Homo sapiens: one gene and its partner. The protein of the gene in region 1 purifies or fractionates together with the protein of each later gene. This does not show direct contact. Each region holds a gene or a part of one and is shown in the gene's direction. Other genes may lie near its edges.

Region 1 (7,571 bases):
GTCTCAAAAAAAAAAAAAAAAAAAAAGAAAAAGAAAAAGAAAAAAAGTGCTAAGGACCCACAACAAAATTTTTAATATTAAAATTAAAAAATGAGGCTGGGTGCGATGGCTCATGCCTGTAATCCCAACACTTCGGGAGGCCGAGGCAGGAGGATCACTTGAGCCCCCGAATTTGGGATCAGCCTGGCCAACATGACGAAACCCTGTCTCTCTAAACAAAAATACAAAATTTAGCCAGGCGTGGTGGCCAGTGCTTGTAATTGAAGGCACTGGAGAGGCTGAGGCAAGAGAATCGTTTGAACCCGGTAGGCGGAGATTGCAGTGAGCCGATATCGCGGGCCACTGCACTCCAGCCTGGGCCACAGAGTGAAACTCTGTCTCAAAGGAAAAAAAGGAAAAGAATATAATAATAATGAATTCAGCTTGGATTTATAAATATAAATGTGTTAATATAAAGACAATAGTCTTTATACCAATACGGTTGTAAAATAAAATTCTTAATTTTTTATGGAGAAAAGGGTCAGTCCACTGAGGCAAAAGTGCTTGGGGCTCACGAAAGCCTCGAAGCTCTGCCACTACCATCCACACTGCAAAAATCCTTTGAAAACAAAATTGAGGCAAGCTCGTTTTTTTTTTTTTTCTTGAGACGGAGTCTCGCTCTGTCGCCCAGGCTGGAGTGCAGTGGCGCTATCTCAGCTCACTGCAAGCTCTGCCTTCCGGGTTTACGCCATTCTCCTGCCTCAGCCTCCAGAGTAGCTGGGACTACAGACGCCCGCCACCACGTCCGGCTAATTTTTTTGTATTTTTAGTAGAGACGGGGTTTCACCGTGTTAGCCAGGATGGTCTCGATCTCCTGCCCTCGTGATGCGCACGTCTCCGCCTCCCAAAGTGCTGGGATTACAGGCGTGAGCCACCGCGCCCAGCCAAGCAAGCTCGTTCTTAAATGCTAGGCTAATTCTGCCCCCTAGCGGCCACAGAGAAATCTCAGAAATTAATGCCCCCAGTTGTTGAGTAATTCGCACCTACCAGGTGCCTTGAACTTACGCTGCATTATTTTGTCCTCACAATTCCATGAGGTTAAGTGATATCCAAATGTATAGATAAGCTGCCGAAGATTCGAGTGCTTAAGTCGGTTTGTTGTTGTTTTTTTTTGAGACGGGGTCTCAAAAGACAGGATCTTACGGAAGTTAATGCTGTTTCCTACTGAAGGAGGCACAGCGAGCGCAAGCCTTGGTGGGCAGGAAGCGTGCTTTAAAGTTTGAGACTGTCAGGCCCGGCGCGGTGGCTCACGCCTGTAATCCTGGCACTTTGGGAGGCCGAGGCGGGCAGACTTGAGGTCAGCAATTTGAGACCAGTCCGGCTAACATGATGAAAACCCGTTTCTACTAAAAATTCGAAAATTAGCTGGGTGTGTGGCACGCCTGTAGTCCCAGCTACTCGGAAGGCTGAGGCAGGAGAATCGCTTGAACCCGGGAGGTGGAGGCTGCAGTGAGCCGAGATCGCATCTCTGCACTCCAACCTGGGCAACAGAGTGAGGCTCTGTCTCAAAAAATAAAGTTGGAGACTTTTATTCTAAAAGCATTCAGTGAGCCATTTATTTATTTATTTTCCTGTAAGCTTGGAAAAATAGGTTCTTCCCCACCCATCTACATGACAGTAATGAGCAAATATCCTTATCAGATAATACATGATTTGCAAACATTTTCTTTCATTCTGTGGGTTGCCTTTTCTCTCTCTCTCTCTTTTTTTTAAGGCAGAGTTTCACTCTTGTTGCCCAGGCTGGAGTGCAATGGTACGATCTCGGCTCACCACAACCTCCACCTCCCATATTCAAGTGATTCTCTTGCCTCAGCCTCCCGAGTAGATGGGATTACAGGCTTGCGCCACCACATGCGGCTAATTTTTGTATTTTTACTACAGACAGGGTTTCACCACGTTGGCCAGGCTAGTCTCCAACTCCTGATCTCAGGTGATCTGCCCGCCTTGGCCTCCCAAAGTGCTGGGGTTACAGGCGTGAGACACCGCGCCCAGCGTCTTTTCACTCTCTTGATAGTGTTCTTTGATGCACAAAAGTTTTAATTTCGAAGTATATCTTTTTGTTGTTTTTGTTGTTGTTGCCTGTGCTTTTAACGTCATATACAAGAAATCATTGCTAAATCCAACGTCATGAAGATTTCCCCTATGTTTTCGTCTAAGAGTATTATAGTTTTAGCTCTTCAGTTTACATCTCTGATCCATTTTGAATGAATTTTTGTATATGGTGTAAGGCTGCACTTTACTTTTTGTATATGGATATTCAGTTTTCCCAATGCACTTCATTTGGAAATAATTTCCCCCCATTCCCTGCTGGTTTACTACTCTCAATTGGATAGTAAAACCAATTAAACCAATATGTATTTTTTTTTTAAATGGTGTCTCACTCTGTCTCCCAGGCTGGAGTGCAATGGCATTATCTCAGCTCACTGCAACCTCCCCCTCCCGGGTTCAAGCAATTCTCGTACCTCAGCCTCTGGAGTAGCTGGGATTACAGGCAGGCGCCACTATGCCCAGCTAATTTTTGTATTTTTAATAGAGATGGGGTTTCACCATGTTGGCCAGGCTGGTCTCGAACTCCTGACCTCAGGTGATCCGCCCGCCTTGGCCTCCCAAAGTGCTGGGATCATAGGGTGAGCCACGGTGCCCAGCCTCTTAAAAAAAAAAAAAAAGAGATGGAGTCTCACTATGTTGTCCAGGCTGGTCTCTTTTTTACTTCCTTTTTTTTTTTTTTTTTTTTTTTGAGACGGAGTCTCACTCTGTCACCCAGGCTGGAGTGCAATGGCGCGATCTCGGCTCGCTGCAAGTCCGCCTCCCGGGTTCACGCCATCCTCCTGCCTCAGCCTCCAGAGTAGCTGGGACTACAGGCGCCCGCCACCACGCCCGGCTAATTTTTTTTGTATTTTTAGTAGAGATGGGGTTTCATCGTGTTAGCCAGGATGGTCTCAATCTCTTGACCTCGTGATCCGCCCACCTCGGCCTCCCAAAGTGCTGAGATTACAGGCGTGAGCCACCGCGCCCGGCCCAGGCTGGTCTCAACTCCTTGGCTCAAGCTATCCTCCCACCTCAGCCTCCCAGTGAGTGGGGATTGCAGGCGTGAGCCACTGCGCCCGGCCAAAACCAATTCTATACATTTGTTTTTTTCTTTTCCGACTTTTGAAAACCATGACAAAGGGAGGTTTCTTCCCCCCAATACCAAACCTGGTGCCTTTTAAGCTCTCTGTAGGAGCTGAGTATGCCCTAGTTGAACTTAAGCCAACTACACAGAAATACCTGCAGGGACCAGGGAGCATATTCCTCCTCCTGTCAAATGCCTGGTGAAGGCAACTGTGATTATCAGCTTAGCAGATGAAAAAGTAGGGCTGCATTCCTTCAGTTGTTGGACCCAAATTCTGCCAGATTCTGACAAAGGGCTTAAAAGGAAGAATGTTTAGGCCAGGTGCGGTGGCTCACGCTTGTAATCCCAGCATTTTGAGAAGCCGAGGCGGGCGGATCACGAGGTCAGGAGATCGAGACCATCCTGGCTAACATGGTGAAACCCCGTCTCTACGAAAAATATATATAAAAAAATTAGCCGGGCGTTGTGGCGGGCGCCTGTAGTCCCAGCTACTCGGGAGGCTGAGGCAGGAGAATGGCGTCAACCCGGGAGGCGGAGCTTGCAGTGAATCGAGATCGCGCCACTGCACTCCAGCCTGGGCGACAATGAGAGACTCTGTCTCAAAAAAAAAAAAAAAAGAAGAAGATGTTTAGGACATGGTTTTTGGAGTCAGAGACGTATGTTCAAATTCTGGCTTCACTATTTTATAGTCTTTGGGCATATGCCCTTTATGTACCCTTGAAGATGTTGCTTAACCTTCCTGAGCCTCAGGTACCTCATCTTTAAAATGGGGATAATGTCTCGGGCCTAGCTGCGAGTCTCTAGTCAGTGCTCAGTAAAAAGTAGCAGACATGATTGAAAACTCGTTTTCCTCTTACAATTGAAGATAGGAACCTTTTCAAGAGCAAGCACCAGGCACCGAATTTAACGACTGGTTGCATTTCTAGGTGATCCAAGACCGTTTGCCCCCGGTCTCCCTGGCAGCACAGCGGTAGGAGATAAGAATGATATGACACCATGCTTGCAAAGTGCTCACAACACACTCCGGCGCTTAAAAAACGAGAGCTGAGTCATGGATGCCCAGTTTCCCCATCCGTAAAATGAGCAAGTTCGATCACTTGAAACGACATTCTTGGATCTTGGATGACTCAGATTTTCCAGGTACATGAGGAAAGGCACCCAGAGGGAAGGAGGAGGAGTGGCAGTGCTGCGACCAAGCCCAGGTTTAGCGAAACCTACAGCTCCACTAGTTCCCCTACCTCCGCAGGTGCCAAGCGGGTTAGGTGGGGAGTAGCCACAGGGCGGAGCTTAGTCGGCTCCGCCCCCAACCCGCGCTTTTCTCATTGGCCCACTGAACTCGAGACTCGTGACGCCTTAAGCGTGCGCCCAGCGTGTGAAGGGGGCGTGGCACGCTGAGAAGGAGCAGACAAGATGGCGACGTCCGTGGGGCACCGATGTCTGGGATTACTGCACGGGGTCGCGCCGTGGCGGAGCAGGTATAGCAGCGCGGAGAGACTACCTTGGGGCGTGGGGCAACCTGGACCAAGCTGGGGTCTGAAGAGAGATGTTTCTGTGTCGCGGGCTCGCTCTGAGGCGAGCTCGGGTGGAGACGGAGCCACCTTCACCTCGAGCTTAGGAGCAGGTGCGACTGCTCCTGCGTAGGGCGGTCCGGATTTACTTAGGGTGTGGCCTAGAAGCTCGCGCTTTGCCCTTTCCAGCTAGGTGGAAGTTCACGAGGGACAAAAATCAGATGAAATAGGCTACCTGCCCGTCTCTTGAGTCGAGGCAGGGCTTTCAGATGTTCAGATGCCATTTTCTCGTGTGTTCGTTTTCGTAGAAGGAATGATGTCCTGTGGGAAGGACACTAGATTGAGTGTCAGGCAACTTTCATTTCTGGATCTTAGTCTTTGAAGCTAGAGGGTTAGGTTAGGTAATCTCAAAACAATATGTTATGGGGCTAGAGTCTTGGTTACCCTTGTGACCCCCAGCTGTTAGATTCTTAGAAATGTGGGAGACTTGAGGGGTCTTCTGAGTCCAGCTGTCTCTCTTTGGAGTTAATGAGATTGAGGCTCCGAGAGAGGGAGGGATTTGCTCAAGTTCACCTAGCCAGTTTGTAGCAGAGCCCGGACCCCCATCAAGGTACCCCCTCACGCGACGATCTTTCTCTCAGGCTGCCCGCCGTGAGGGCAGTGGTTATACAGAAAATAGCTTAGAGCATTTGGAGTGTCGGAAAATGGATTAAAATGTAGCTGTGATTCAGAGTCGGCTGCCTGGTGTCATTTCAAAGAGCTAAGATTTGAGAGATGCGCCATACTTGTGTGTTTCCTACAGGGTTCATTTTGTCAGCGTTGATCAGAGGATAACCTATTGTTTTGGGAGGAGACGGACACTGGATTTGGACTGAGAGGGAACAGAAACCATCATTGGTCTTGTTATGAAAGCGTCACTCTTTCATCATTAACTGTACAGAAATGATTATCTCTCAGGAGAGGGCTCTGCATTGTGGTGGTAACTGTTAGAATTTGGGCAGGAGACTTTGTTTTCAATGTTATTACCAGGCGTGCTGTGTATGAGTCAACCCTGAATTCATTTAAAGTGTGTCACAGGCTGGGCGCGGTGGCTCACGCCTGTAACCTCAGCACTTTGGTAGGCCAAGGTGGGTGGATCACTTGAGGTCAGGAGTTCGAGACCAGCCTGGCCAATGTGGTGAAACCCTGTCTCTACTAAAAAATACAAAAATTAGCCGGGCATGGTGGCAGGCACCTGTAATCCCAGCTACTTGGGAGGCTGAGGCAGGAGAATTGCTTGAACCTGGGAGGCGGAGGTTGCAATAAGCCAAGACTGCGCCGCTGGAGTCCAGCCTGGGCGACAGAGTGAGACTCTGTCTCAAAAAAATTAAAAATAAATAAAGTGTGTCACGAATTGAAAGGACTAAAATGAGACTCTTAAAAAATTGTTTTTTGTTGTTGTTATTTGTTTTGGAAGTCAGAGCCTCACTCTGTTGCCCAAGAGGGAGTGCAGTGGTGTGATGATGGCTCACTGCAGCCTCCACCTCCTGGTCTCAAGCAGTTCTTCCACCTCAGCCTCCTGAGTAGCTAGGACCACAGGTGCACGCCACCCCGCCCAGCTGCATTTTTTTTGGGGGTGGGGGTGGAGACAGGGTTTCACCATGTTGCCCAGGCTGGTGTTGAACTCCTGGGCTCAAGTGATCCACCCACTTTCACCTCTCTAAGTGCTGGCATTACAGAAGTGAGCCATCGCAGTCCACCTAAAATAATTTTTTTAAATGATGAGAGGAGGCTGTACCTCAGTCACCATCATTAAAAGGGAAAGAAAAAAAGCTATGTTTTAGTACCAGTGTAGATAGATAAGGCTAGACTTAGATGCAGTGGGTGAGAGAGATGAAGATTTGGGTACAATAAGAAACCTTAATTTTCAAAGGTATTCTATATCAAGATAGAAATGATATTAATACACAAACCAAAAAGATAACATTTCTGTGGGTTTTTAGTAAACCAGTGCCTATTTGTGAGACATGTAAATGAAAACCTTATATTTCAGGTAAGTTTTTCAATAACTGGGTGATGTGTGACAGGTGATAGATAACATCTTGGGTGATAATTTAGGGCCATGTTTCCTAAACTCATTTGATAAAAGAATGGGCTGAATGGGCTGGGATGCTTGTTAGAAATAGAGATTCCTTGGGAGTCTCTCTGAGCCTGCTGTAGTTTGGGAGGCTGGCTGATTAAAAAAAACAAAGCCGGGCACGGTGGCGCATGCCTGTAATCCCAGCACTTTGGGAGGCCAAGGTGGGTGGATCATGAGGTCAGGAGATCGAGACCAGCCTGGCCAACATGCTGAAACCCCGTCTCTAACAAAAATTAGCCGGGTGTGGTGGCGTGTGTCTGTAGTCCCAACTACTCAGGAGGTTGAGGCAGGAGAATCTCCTGAACCCGGGAGGCGGAAGTTGCAGTGAGCCGAGATCACGCCACTGGACTCCAGCTTCGGCAACAGAGCAAGACTCCGTCTCAAAAAAAAAAAGATTCCAGATATGCCCCCATCCTACTGCCAATTTCAGATTCAGTAGATATAAGTTGGGGCTCTGGCAACTGTAGTTTTTACAGGTGATTCTTAGGTTCAGGCAAGTACGGACAATAGTACCTAGGAAGTAGCTTCTCGTGCATGACTTCCATCAGAAATATTTATGGCATCCCTACCACTGCAAACCACACTGTCAACGGACCATAGAGAAGGGAGAAGAGAGAAGGGAAGGGGAGCAAATGAAGAAATTAAAAACATTTGAAATAGGCCTTGTCTTCAAGGAACTTTACTATATACTTGTAATACATGGTGGAATACGGGATAAAGCCTTCAAGAGGTCTGTCCGTTCTGTTTTAGGAGAACTTTCACAGCTTTAGAAAGCAAGGGAGACATAAGGACT
Region 2 (7,000 bases), on another chromosome or scaffold:
TCCAGGTTGTGGGCTTTAGGTGGGAGCAACAGCGTCTGTCAGTTGATTTCATTTCTTTCTAGTAATTTTCACAATTCGCTCTTATTGTTACATTAAACTAAACCTCAGCAACAGTAGTATTCAGGCTGAGACTATTCTCTTGTTCTGAACGTTTGGGTTTGTTTTTTCAGCTTCCATTTCTAGCTTTACTAAATAAAAATGTTGCATGAATATTCTCAGCACTGGAATTTGAAGTAGGAAGAAAGCTGAAGTCGACATGTCTTTGTTTTCAACTAAGATTTAGTGTTTTCTGGGGAGGAGTATGGTAAAGTTGGTAAGAGTATGCATTTTTGATATCAGGCCTGGATTTGGTTCTCAGCTCTACCATTCACCACCTGTATCACCTTAGACAAATAATCTAACTCCTCTGGACCTCAACTTCATCTGTAAACAGATAATATTTCTCATAGGGTCAATGATCATGTAAATTAGATAATATCCATAAAAGGAATATAATACATGGTAAGAGCTCATTAACTGTTAGCTGCTTTATTTTTGTGGTAGCGTGGAAACTTACTGTTTTTGTTGTTAGTGGTTATCTTGGAATGGACATTGGATTGAATATGTGCCTCCTTGTTAGCACATAGTGCTGTGAATAACATGTCTGGGTAGGGGTTAATTCCACAGTTACTCAAAAGGAAAGAAACCAATAAAGAAAAACAGAGGTTTAGTTTAAAAGGAGTAATATGGCCAGGTGCGGTGGCTCACCCCTGTAATCCCAGCACTTTGGGAGGCCTAGGCGGGCAGATCACGAGTTCAGGAGTTCGAGACAAGCCTGGCCAACATAGTGAAACCCCATCTCTACTAAAAATTCAAAAATTAGCTGGGCGTGTTGGCACACGCCTGTAGTCCCAGCTAGTCAGGAGGCGGAGGCAGGAGAATCGCTTGAACCTGGGAGGCGGAGGTTGCAGTGAGCTGAGATTGCACCACTGGACTCCAGCTTGGGTGACAGAACGAGACTTCATCTCAAAAAAAAAAAAAAAAGGAGTAATAAGTAATATACACTCTGCTATCTTTATTTCCTTCTCTCCTCTTTGAAGAAAAGCTCAGGTAGAAATAACAGATTCGGTAATCTTCTGTGTCAAAATATGCATAAAATGGTTGAGGTGATTGTGGGAGTGAGAAAAGAGAAGGATTGAAGTTCAAATCTTAAATGGCACAGACAAGGGGTTTACAGGGAGGAAGGTCAGAAGAGATATAAATGAAGAGTCAGATTAGTATTCAGGAAAGTACGTGGAACTGAAGTTGGGAGATCTGTTCTTCCAGTCTCACTTTCTCCATTCATGGTTTGTGCACCTTCCCTGCTATACAGACTGGACTTGAACACTAAGTCTTCAATAGCTGAGATTCTCCATCTTAATCTACTTGGAGGCAAGAGCAGGTGAATCAAGATAGTGTAATGTCTCAGAAACAGGAATTTCAAGAAGAAACAATGTCAGATGTTACAGAAATAAAGGAGGATGAGAGCTGGGAAAAGGATGGGATGCTCAGGAGGCCAATTTTTCTAGATTAGAGGGACAGAGAAATAGCTGCAATATGAGATTTACTATGGAACACCAGGTAATAAGAATTATCCCAGGTCCTCTTGCCAACTGTGTAGATAACATCGATGTTAATAAAAATTCTCTGATATGTCAGGAAAAATGTATTCATGTGCTTTCATCAATGGCCTATAAATTAAACTATTTGAGAGTTTTTTTTTTTTTTGAGACAGAATCTTGCCCTGTCGCTCAAGCTGGGGTGCAGCGGTGTGATCTTGGCTCACTGCAACCTCCGCCTCCCAGGTTCAAGCGATTCTCCTGCCTCAGCCTCCTGAGTAGCTGGGATTACAGGTGCGTGCCACCGTGCCTGGCTAATTTTTGTATTTTTAGTAGAGACGGGGTTTCACCATGTCAGTCAGGATGGTCTTGAACTCCTGACCTCGTGATCCATGCGCCTCGGCCTCCCAAAGTGCCAGGATTACAGGCATGAGCCACCGCACCCGGCCGAGAATTTTTTCAATTCAAAGTTGGAAGATAATTTTTAGTTTGTTGCTGGGTGAGATGGAGCTAAATCTCCTTGTTTCTCTTTAGAATTTTAATTGCAGTTCTCACTTGAAATGATTTTTTTTGTTTTTGTTTTTGTTTTGTAGATTGGTTGTTTCATTATGGATGGAGGGGATGATGGTAACCTTATTATCAAAAAGAGGTTTGTGTCTGAGGCAGAACTAGATGAACGGCGCAAAAGGAGGCAAGAAGAATGGGAGAAAGTTCGAAAACCTGAAGATCCAGAAGGTATACTGTGACAGTCAGTATAATGGTCTTTAATCCACACAGCAACCCTGCAGAGTAGGTATTAATTGTCCTCACTTGGTTTTATTTATTTATTTTTTTGAGACGGAGTCTCACTCTGTTGCCCAGGCTGGAGTGCAGTGGCGCGATCTTGGCTCACTGCAACCTCTGCCTCCCAGGCTCAGGAGATTCTCCTGCCTTAGCCTTCCGAGTAGTTGGGATTACAGGCACCAGCCACCACGCCTGGCTAATTTTTGTATTTTTGGTAGAGATGGAGTTTCATCTGTTGGCCAGGCTGGTTCCAAACTCCTGAGCTCAAGCCATCCTCCTGCCTCGGCCTCCCAAAGTGCTGGGATTACAGGTGTGAGCCACCATGCCTGGCCAATTGTCCATACTTTAGAGTTGAGGAACTGAGACTCAGGGGCGAAGTCACCTATGTAAGGTCCTGCACAGCTGGGAGCAGAGCCAGCATACTCACATCCTGCTTCTTTTCTGCCTACCACACTTCCTTCCAAGAGATTCTGCTCCTCTCCTCCATCTATACAGGTGGATCCATGGTCTGAACAACTGAGAACACTGCTGCTGTGGAGGGTTTGGGCTGGCCCCTCAATCAGTTAACTGTCTCAGGCCATGGGCGCTATTGACATTGATAGTTGGCTTTGAGAACTGGTGGCCCCTCTCTGAGGTCCAAAGGGAAACTGGACTTTGTACTATTTTTGTGTTATCCACACCCTCAGATCATGCAGAGACTTGACTTTGTCTTTAAAACCTTTTGTGATTCCAAAATAATATGAAAACAATCTGAAGTGTATATCTCCTCCCCGTCCACCTCTCTCCCCTCTCCTTTTCCTTTCAGAATGTCCAGAGGAGGTTTATGACCCTCGATCTCTATATGAAAGGCTACAGGAACAGAAGGACAGGAAGCAGCAGGAGTACGAGGAACAGTTCAAATTCAGTAAGCTTCAGAAAACAGAGAGTTCAAGGGGCTCTGTGGGGTACTTTTGACGCACTTTTGCCTTGTGCAGCACTTTTCCTAACTAGCCGTGGAATTGTCTTGATTTTCGAGTCTCCGGATGCTTATTTGGTGGAAAAGAGACAGCCTTCAGCCTTCTAGACCACATTGAATATTTTTGTTTAGAGCTCAAAACACCCATTTTAATTCTATGGTAATATTTAGTAATGGGAAAAAATGCCTTGTTTTTTTTTATGCCCTGTTATCTATTCAAACGCCATGGTATTTACCAGTTCTTTTTTTTTTAATCCCCTGAAGAATCTGCTGCTTATTTAAAAAGGGGAAAGGAAAAATCTTATTTTTCCCTTTAGCCTGCTAAGTGTGCCTTGTTTAATTATTTCCTCAGAAAACATGGTAAGAGGCTTAGATGAAGATGAGACCAACTTCCTTGATGAGGTTTCTCGACAGCAGGAACTAATAGAAAAGCAACGAAGAGAAGAAGAACTGAAAGAACTGAAGGAATACAGAATATCCTTTGTACTTGGAGGAAAACCTGTAAGGTGTCCATTTTCTCATCAGCATCTATGGATGTTGTCTCCTCATCAACAGAAAGAGGGTTTTCTACCTGGTGATCTCTCAAGTCCCTTTGAACACTGATATTCCTGTAATTCTGAAAAGCTGGTAGTGGTTTGTGGAGTTTGTGTTGTGTGCAAGAGTGTTATAGTCAAAAGTCCACATCCTTCTTAGGGTTAACTCAAGGCATCAATCCTACTAGTACTGGGATTAGATTCTGACACAGGTGGGCAGTGCAGTCAGCTTCATCCAGGGGAGAAATTGGGCTCTGAGTTTTAAAAGAACATGTTTAGCAACTTTCCTATATTCTTAGTAAGATGTTCTCTAGTGGTATAGCATGCCCTGTCCTGATAGAAGGGCTGAGAAAGCAGCAAAGATGACTTTGCTCTAGATCAGTGTTGCCTTTTGGTCATCCACTTGAATGTCTTCATAGACATCCCAAATGAAACTTGGCTGAATCAAAATTCTCAATACTGTGCCACATCACCCCCACTCTCATCACACTGCCCTTCCCCAAAGTCTCTTCTTTTTCTGGTCCTCCCAGTCCCAGTAACTGGTAGTCCTATGCCTCCAGGTGCCTGGGCCAAGAACTGTTTCCAAAACGTACTCCAAATCTCTTGAATTGTTGGTATCTACTGCTACTGTAGTAGTAGTAGACTTTCTTCTCGACTCCTGTGACCATCTAATTGGTTTGTTTCTGCTCTCATCCTCAATAATCTATTCCTTAGACAAGAAAGGGAACTTTAAAAACCATACATGGCATCATGTCACTTTTCTATTTGAAACAGTCTAGTGGGTTCCCCTTACATTTAGACTAAAGTCTTACTCTGTATCAGGCCGTAGAAGGTTCTACATTATTTAGGCCAACCCGCCTCCTTCTTGCATCTTGAAGCCACTCTTTCTCATGTTGACTGTACTGCAGCCTGCTGGCCTTCTTTATGTTCTCTTTCACCATGCTTTCTGAGTCAATCTCAGGGCCTCAGACTTGCTGTTTCCTCAGCCCAAAATGTTCTGCCCTCAGATTTTGCAAGATGCATTTCACAGCTCAGCCCTCTGCTCAGCTCTCCCTTTTAGAAACCTTCCCTAAGCACCCCACCTAAAATTGCTGTCGGTAATATCAATTTTTTTTTTTGAGATGGAGTTTCTCTCTTGTTGCCCAGGCTGGACTGCAGTGGCGCGATCTCGTCTCACTGCAACCTCCGCCTCCCGGGTTCAAGCGATTCTCCTGTCTCAGCCTCCCAAGTAGCTGGGGTTACAGGTGCATGCCACCACGCCCAGCTAATTCTTGTATTTTTAGTAGAGACGAGGTTTCATCATATTGGTCAGGCTGGTCTCGAACTCGTTACCTCAGGTGATCCGCCCACTCCAGCATCCCAAAGTGCAGGGATTACAGGCGTAAGCCACCGCACCCAGCAAGTAATATCATTTTTTATAGATTTGTCACTATCTGAAAGTTGTCTTTATTTATTTGCCTACTGGTTTGTTTATCTCTTTCCTGCTAGAATGTAAAGTAAATGAGCTCCATAAGAAAAAAGACTATCTGACTTGGTCACTTCTGATTTCTCCAGTGCCTGGCATATAGTAGATTCTCAGTAAATATGTGAATAAATTAATAAATGATTCATAGGAGATATTAATAGGACCATTTATCTTCATGTGAGGAAGCTTATTTGGATATTTCAAGCTTATATGTTGAGTAACATCACTGGTGTAATCCAACAGGCTTCACGTCTAAGATGGACGACATTACTGTGTATATGTACTAGTTGGTATTTTCTTGCAGAGAATGTGCAGCACATTCCATTTTAAGAGTTACGTGGGAGGCCTGGACACAGTGGCTCACGCCTTTGATTCCAGCACTTTGGGAGGCCGAGGCAGGAGGATCGCTTGAGGTCAGGAGTTTGAGACCAGCCTGGCCAAAATGGTGAAACCCTGTCTCTGCTAAAAATACAAAAATTAGCCGGGCATGGTGGCTTGTGCCTGTAGTCCCAACTACTCAGGAGGCTGAGGCAGGAGAATCGCTTGAACCTGGAAGGTGGAGATTGCAGTGCGCCAAGGTCACGCCACTGTACTCCAGGCTGGGGACAGAGCAAGACTTTATCTTAAAAAAAAAAAAAAAAAAAAGCGTTGTATGGGAGAAGACATGGACAGATTCCCTGATTCCCTGGGAATTGATTTACATCAGAACTGGTAGGAAAAGACCTGGCTTCCAGTCCCAGTTCTGTTACTGGCATTCAGGTGCAACATGGAGATGGAAGCTCATGGGAAGTTATACCTCAATCTCAACTGTAGGATTGAGGCTGATTATTCTGAACTCCCCCTTCCCTGACCCTGATGACCCCAAAATAATATGTGTTCGTTTGTAGAGATAGGCAGATACCCATATTGTGTTGTTTCAGACACCAAGCTTTTTCCTCTAAGGAAATACATTCATTACACTTCTCACTTGAATGATATTATGTTTTATTTTGGTAGACTAGCAAATAAGACATATAGTGTCCCCCAAAGTAGCATCTGGGGAGAAGTGCTGTTGAGTGTGAGATGCCCTTTGGTTTTCAATTAAAAGGAAAGAATGAACAGGGCAGCAGTGAGACAAAAGAAACCTTTGTGTCCTGGTAACATTGCAGTACAATGAGGCTCCAGGGATAAGGGCTTTAACTGGAAACTTGGAAAGTTCTGTCTAGAAAAACTGAAGAAAAGCAGGCCTTCCAAGTCACTGACATCTAATACACTAATCCCAAGCATGCAAGTAGCCAGAGACATGTTGAGATAGGAATTGAAGGATTAGACATTTGTTTATTGAAGCTCTAAGTTAGGAACTGTTTCTAGGCTTTGCTTGATTACTATATGATATGTTGTATAATAGGATACTTCTGAATACAAATAAGCTGTGGTTTAAACCATGTAAATAACAGAACTCTTGTTTCGTCTCAGGTTAAACCAGTATTTAGCAGTATTGTGTATGTTAAAAAACGGTGCAATTTTAAGAGAATGCTGATCTAATGAATTTCTTGAGATTTTTGAGGTGTGTTTGTGTTTTTAAAGCATTTTGGGAGAAGAGGGGCTTAAGAAGGAAAAATTGCTTGTACTTTGCGGATCAAAAATAAGATTATTAACACCCCCTACCCCTAAAAGGTTAGGACTTTTCTTCATTTCAAAAGAATAA

What was found. Proteins that work in one complex are often made in the same cells at the same time.
Region 2: the proteins of PISD (region 1) and PSME3IP1 purify together in Homo sapiens (co-immunoprecipitation; 2 studies listed by BioGRID and IntAct, with this or other methods). This does not show direct contact.

What each region holds. Positions count from the first base shown.
Region 1 is NC_000022.11:31,659,199-31,666,769, reverse strand, and holds the start of PISD (phosphatidylserine decarboxylase proenzyme, mitochondrial), read left to right. Parts: upstream 1-4,554; 5' UTR 4,555-4,561; coding exon 4,562-4,626; intron 4,627-7,571. UniProt on the Homo sapiens protein: Catalyzes the formation of phosphatidylethanolamine (PtdEtn) from phosphatidylserine (PtdSer). Plays a central role in phospholipid metabolism and in the interorganelle trafficking of phosphatidylserine.
Region 2 is NC_000016.10:57,169,040-57,176,039, reverse strand, and holds part of PSME3IP1 (PSME3-interacting protein), read left to right. Parts: exon of another isoform or gene 1-498; coding exon of another isoform or gene 499-501; intron 502-1,019; exon of another isoform or gene 1,020-1,322; coding exon of another isoform or gene 1,323-1,325; intron 1,326-1,351; exon of another isoform or gene 1,352-1,420; intron 1,421-1,434; exon of another isoform or gene 1,435-1,575; coding exon of another isoform or gene 1,576-1,599; intron 1,600-1,749; exon of another isoform or gene 1,750-1,871; intron 1,872-2,054; exon of another isoform or gene 2,055-2,076; intron 2,077-2,170; coding exon of another isoform or gene 2,171-2,185; coding exon 2,186-2,312; intron 2,313-3,165; coding exon 3,166-3,264; intron 3,265-3,667; coding exon 3,668-3,789; intron 3,790-7,000. UniProt on the Homo sapiens protein: Promotes the association of the proteasome activator complex subunit PSME3 with the 20S proteasome and regulates its activity.